Homo sapiens: one gene and its partner. The protein of the gene in region 1 interacts with the protein of each later gene in a biochemical or structural test. Each region holds a gene or a part of one and is shown in the gene's direction. Other genes may lie near its edges.

Region 1 (3,500 bases):
AAATCTGTCTTAGATACTAATTTTTTAATATAAGCTTTTAATGTATTGTTAACAATTTGGTCACATTATATTACTGGGTTTTGTGTTTCTAAATTATTTTAGTAGTTATAACTGGATAACTTATTTTCTTTTTCTTCTGTATTATAGATCTTAGTGTTTTTGTATCGGTCAAAAATTTATCTGACTGAATAATTAGAAATAATTTAGGGAAGAATCACTTAAAATAACAGTGGCAAAAATACTGTAGAATGTCTTGATTGGCCATATAATGTTACTCGTTTTTCCTAAATGTTTAGTCATTTTTTACTGTTCCTTTAACTACAGATTACATTTTTTTGTTTGTTTGTTTTTACTGTCTTCACAAATGCTTCCAAATATGGCTGCTTCCAACCCTGAGTTTAACCCAGGAACAATACTGCAAACTGCTCAATTCAGTAGTGAGTGGGCTATATGCATACCTACTCATCAAAGCTATTATTTAAAGAATTATTATTTTTTTAGCACTCTTAGCATTTCAAGATAATGCATGCACTCAGTTCCCAAAGTGTATTATTGCTTCTTGAAACTCCTCTTTGATCTGCTGAAAGTAATGATGGCTACCATCTTAAACAGACCCTAAGGTTGAGAGTAAACATATAAATTTGAAAGCTGTTTATTGATATATTGATTATCAGTGGTCACTTACCTATCAGTGAACTTTGGTAGTGACACATACAGACTGGTATTTATAACGTGCAGGCAAAATAAGTACTGTGACCTTGAAAGATTTTTTTTTTTTTTTGAGACTTGCACTCAAAAGATTTTTTTTTTGAGTCTTGCACTGTCACCCAGGCTAGAGTGCAGTGGCAAGATCTCGGCTCAGCCTCCCAAGTAGCTGGGATTACAGGCACCCACTACCACACCCAGCTAATTTTTATGTTTTTAGTAGAGACAGGGTTTCGATATGTTTGCCAGGCTGGTCTCAAATTCCTGGCCTCAAGTGATCTGCCCACCTAGGCCTCCCAAAGTGCTGGGATTACAGACGTGAGCTACCACACCTGGCCTTGAAAGATTATTTTCTATTTCTGACCCATTATATACCACCCATACTGTAGTGCTTGTATTTTCTCTCACACATACTGTATTTTTTAACTTGAGAGAGTGTATTTGGTAGACTAGATGACAGTCTTTTTGAGACAGAGTTTTGCTCTTGTTGCCCAGGCTGAAGTGCAGTGGCGCAATCTTGGCTCACTGCAACCTCCGCCTCCTGGGTTCAAGGAATTCTCCTGCCTCATCCTCCCTAGTAGTTGGGAATACAGGCATGCGCCACCATGCCTGGCTAATTTTTTGTATTTTTAGTAGAGACAGGGTTTCACTGTGTTAGCCAGGATGGTCTGGATCTCCTGACCTCGTGATCCGCCCACCTCGGCCTCCCAAAGGGCTGGGATTACAGGCGTGAGCCACCACGCCCAGCCAGGTGACAGTCTTAAACTATTTGCTTAAATTACAGAATTATCTTTTCTTGATTTATCTTTGTTTTATTTGAAGGATCTTTAGAAGATAATGAATAGTATAATATTACTTTACCAGTTTACCATAATTTTAAATTGCTAATGTCTTTTGTTCCTCAGCTTCAGAATTTGAAATATAACTGCCCAGCTGTAACTATATAAGAAAATATGTAGATAAGAAATTTTCATTTTGAGTTTTTAGTATATCAAGCATGTGGTATTGTACCTAGGAAGTTTTATTGTTTTTTTGTTGTTGTTTTGTTCTTTTGCTTTTTTTTTTAAAAAAAACCAAAAAACCATTACTGGAAATAGGATTTGGTGAGGGCCAGAAAGATGTATGATGTGATATGCTTATTAAAAGTTACTACTACATGACGAGTCTGTTGGTGGCTCATGCCTGTAATCCCAGCATTTTGGGAGGCTGAGGCAGGAAGTTCACTTGAGCCCAGGAGTTCATAACCAGTCTGGGTGACATAGTGACACCCAATCTCTACAAAAGATAAAAAACTAGCCGGGCATGGTGGTGCACACTTGTGGTCCCAGCTACTCTGGAGGCTGAGGTAGGAAGATCACTTGAGCCTAGGAGCTCAAGGCTGCAGTGAGCCATAATTGCGTCCCGGCACTCTGCCTGGGCAACAGAGGGAGACCCTGTCTCAAAAAAAAAAAAAAAAAAAGAGTAAGATATAGCTAAAAGCACCCTACTATGTGCCAGCTCATTTCTGTTTGTTTGGTTTTGTATTTCAAAGCAAAAATCACTATACATGTGATTTCTGGTTTCTTTTTACTCAACCTTAACTATGTTATTGGTTTGATTTTAACCGAAGATTTTCCTGTGTGTAAATGTTCTTTGTTGCAGCATAACTACAAGTAGTCTCATTTTTAATGTGTTGCCAAATATTTACCATATGGATTATTTACTTTATAGATTGTTTATTTACCTTATAGATTATTATTTCCTTTGTAGATCATTATCTTATAGAGCCATTGGCACCAGAATTAGAGTTTTGGGGGGTTTTTTGGTCCTAGAACTTGTTAGTGAATTACAGTCACACATTTCTTAATGGCAGGGATATGTTCTAAGAAAAATATGTCATTAGGCAGTTTTGCCATTGTGTGAATGTCATAGAATGTATTTACACAAACCTAGATGGTATAGTATATACTACACATCTGGGCCATACAATGTAACCTCTTGCTCCTAGGCTACAAACTTGTATAGCATATTACCATACTCAACAATTGTAACACAATGGTAAGTATTTGTGTATCTAAACATAGAAAAGGTACAGTAAAAATATGGTATCATAATCTTACAGGACCGCTGTTGTTTATGCGGTCTTGTTGATGAAAACATCATTATGTAGTGCATGACTATAATGGAATACTTTTGTATTGATACCTAAAAAAAACTTTTGCATAAGTTACTGCCTGACAAAAATTCTTAGCTATCAATTCTAATTTCAGTCTTGACTTAGGCCTCCTGAAAGATTTCTCAGATTCAACTACAGAAGGCCCCATACAGTGTATGATTTGCAAAAGCCTATATAAAATACGCAATATCTGGTTGGATAACCTCTAAAACAAAAGTTTTTAACAGGAAAGGCAGCCCAAAGTTCCAGGGAGAAACATGCATTTGCAAAGCAAGGGCCACGCTTAGAAAATAAAAGTTTTTAAGGGTGAGAACTGCCATGAGAGAAAAAGCACAGAGTTTCTGGAAGATAACTGATAGAAAAAGGGCTGAACTGCCCTTTTTGTTTTGTTCATTTAATTTAAGAAATGGTACCAGAATGCCAAGATTATGTGTCCCTTCCTTCCAACAGCCATCTCTTCACTGTGCGCTGTTAGTAGCAAGAGGGCAAGGAGACATATGGTGATGACTCAGACTACCACTACTGGATAAGGTAGATAGTTCTTTAGTGGCAAGAGAGAGTTCTGGTACTCTTGGTAGATGTATCAAGTATTGGACTGGAACTCCTCTTTCAGGAGGACCCAGAAGCTGTATTTTCTTGC
Region 2 (2,325 bases), on another chromosome or scaffold:
TGTGTGTCCATTAGACACGGCTGATGTGTGTGCAAAGTATCCATGCGGAGTTGATGCTTTGGGAATTGGCTCATGAAGGTTCTTCTCAAGGGTGCGAGCTCATCCCCCTCTCTCCTTCCTTCTTATTGACTGGGAGACTGTGCTCTCGACAGATTCTTCTTGTGTCAGAAGTCTAGCCTCAGGTTTCTACCCTCCCTTCACATTGGTGGCCAAGGGAGGAGCATTTCATTTGGAGTGATTATGAATCTTTTCAAGACCAAACCAAGCTAGGACATTAAAAAAAAAAAAAGAAAAAGAAAGAAAAAACAAAATGGAAAAAGGAAAAAAAAAAAGAACTGAGATGACAGAGTTTTGAGAATATATTTGTACCATATTTAATTTTTAAAGTCTCTGGTATTAGCCTCATAAGTTATTGACTATTCCCCGGGGTTGGCGGGGAGTGGGGACATGAGTTGGTCTGCCTGTTGTGGGGCCGGGAAGGGGAGGGAGTCAGGCACAAGTGGCCTCTTTGTTTGGTCTTAAAGGCATCCATTTCTGGGAATGAAGCCATGTTCGCTGCTAACACTTTTGGATGTTGTGAGGCCACGTGGAGTGTGTGAGAGACTAGGTTTTATGGATGGTCTGGTTCAGGTACCAGGTCTGCTGGAAGGTTCCTGTTCGGATAAGCTGGTAGCTACCTAGCTCTGAGCCTGCCTTCAAGAACACCTGTGTTCATCCTCTGATTCTCTGTGTGTACCTCTTGTGGCGTTTCCTCTCCCGGGTGTGAACATCCTAACCGTTATTGTGCAAACCCAAGAACGTCAGATCCCAAAGCACAACAACCTGGATGGACTTTGGGAACATCTAAGCAATGTAAGAGAGAGGTGCACTGAGAGTACGTCTTGGTCCCCTCCACCCTGAGAGCATCTGACGGTCCTCAGTACTGAACTCCCGGAAGCTGCTCTGAGCCCGGTGACCTCATCTGGGCCAGGTGTGGTGCCTGAGCTGAATGCTCAGGTGCTTACAGTGTTGCAATCCCTAAGAGAGTAGAGTCTGGAGGAGAAACCGTGAAAAAGACCTTACACACCACCAAGAACTTCCGAATGGGCGTGAATCCACCGTTTCTTCTCTTTGCAAAAAGAACCACCACAGCTGCTCAAAGAACACAGTGAACTCATCACTTTGGTTCATCAAAAAATCATCGCCCATGCGTTATTCCTGAGTGCATTTTCTTACAACTTTTTGACTGCTTCCTTTTCTTCTTCTCTTAAGAGTTGTGGGCTTAAGAATGGGATAGAGTCATAATGGCAACCTCCAAGCCCTCTCAATTCTTGATTAAGAACACAGGTAGACATGAATCCCAATTGTCTATTGCTATCTTATTTATATGATTCGGGAAAATACAGCATGTAAAAATATTGCTGAGGAGCCTCAGTGATTGGGTACAAGAAGCAAGAGTACAGAAATTATTTTTGCCAAATTTATTTTGTAAATATGAGGGTCTGTACCTAAATTTAAAAAAAAAACACGTAGAACTAGGTATTTTGTTCTCTTCTTAGTAAATTTGTAGTGGTTGTATACTACACTAGCTGCAATTTTCACATTTTTCTAATTCAGAAAGGTTTTTCTTATATTAGGGGAAAAAGTATTTATTTTAATATATAAAATCACTCTGAAAATCACTCTCATAAAAAATGGAGCGCATGTAAATTTTTATCAAAGAAAAATAAACAGGTGAATGGGGGATAGTGATTTTCTTTTTTCAGCACAGTCTACCTCAGTGTATTGTTAAGATGTGATTCAATCATGGACATCTTTGAGATTTCAGAATTCTACCTGGAACCGGTCTGAATCAGGGAACGTGTGTATCAGCTGATTCGAATGCCAGGGACCAGTAAGAATTTTGAGGGAGGGAGTTGGGATGGAGAAGGTATGGCCTTTATGCGAGCATAGATCCTTTTCTTCCTGGCTGGTAATATTCTTCTCTGAATTTAATCTTCCTTTAAAAAAAAATCCTCCATCTATTGTCACTATGTTCCCCAAACATAAACTAAGTTCCAGGCTGTCATGATGTATCTGATATATGGGGTAACCCAGCAAGGTGTACCTTCCTTTGGTGAGAGATGGCTGCCGGGGCAAAGACGGGCTTTGATTCAGAGCAAGCATTCCCACCTGTTCCATGGAATCCCCCTGAAGTGAGCACAAAGGTGCCCTGGGCTCCCTGATGGTTTATGCCCACTCCTTTCAGGCTGGTGATGCACCTTACACACAAACACCTAATGCAATGTCTTTTTAAATTCTCCAAGTGGGATGGGAGCATGTGAGGGAAATTCCAATCCAAAACCC

What was found.
Region 2: of the proteins of PTPN12 (region 1) and INSR, one has a biochemical effect on the other in vitro, tested with the Homo sapiens proteins (one large-scale study listed by IntAct).

What each region holds. Positions count from the first base shown.
Region 1 is NC_000007.14:77,627,795-77,631,294, forward strand, and holds part of PTPN12 (tyrosine-protein phosphatase non-receptor type 12), read left to right. Parts: intron 1-3,500. UniProt on the Homo sapiens protein: Dephosphorylates a range of proteins, and thereby regulates cellular signaling cascades. Dephosphorylates cellular tyrosine kinases, such as ERBB2 and PTK2B/PYK2, and thereby regulates signaling via ERBB2 and PTK2B/PYK2.
Region 2 is NC_000019.10:7,114,090-7,116,414, reverse strand, and holds part of INSR (insulin receptor isoform Long preproprotein), read left to right. Parts: 3' UTR 1-2,325. UniProt on the Homo sapiens protein: Receptor tyrosine kinase which mediates the pleiotropic actions of insulin.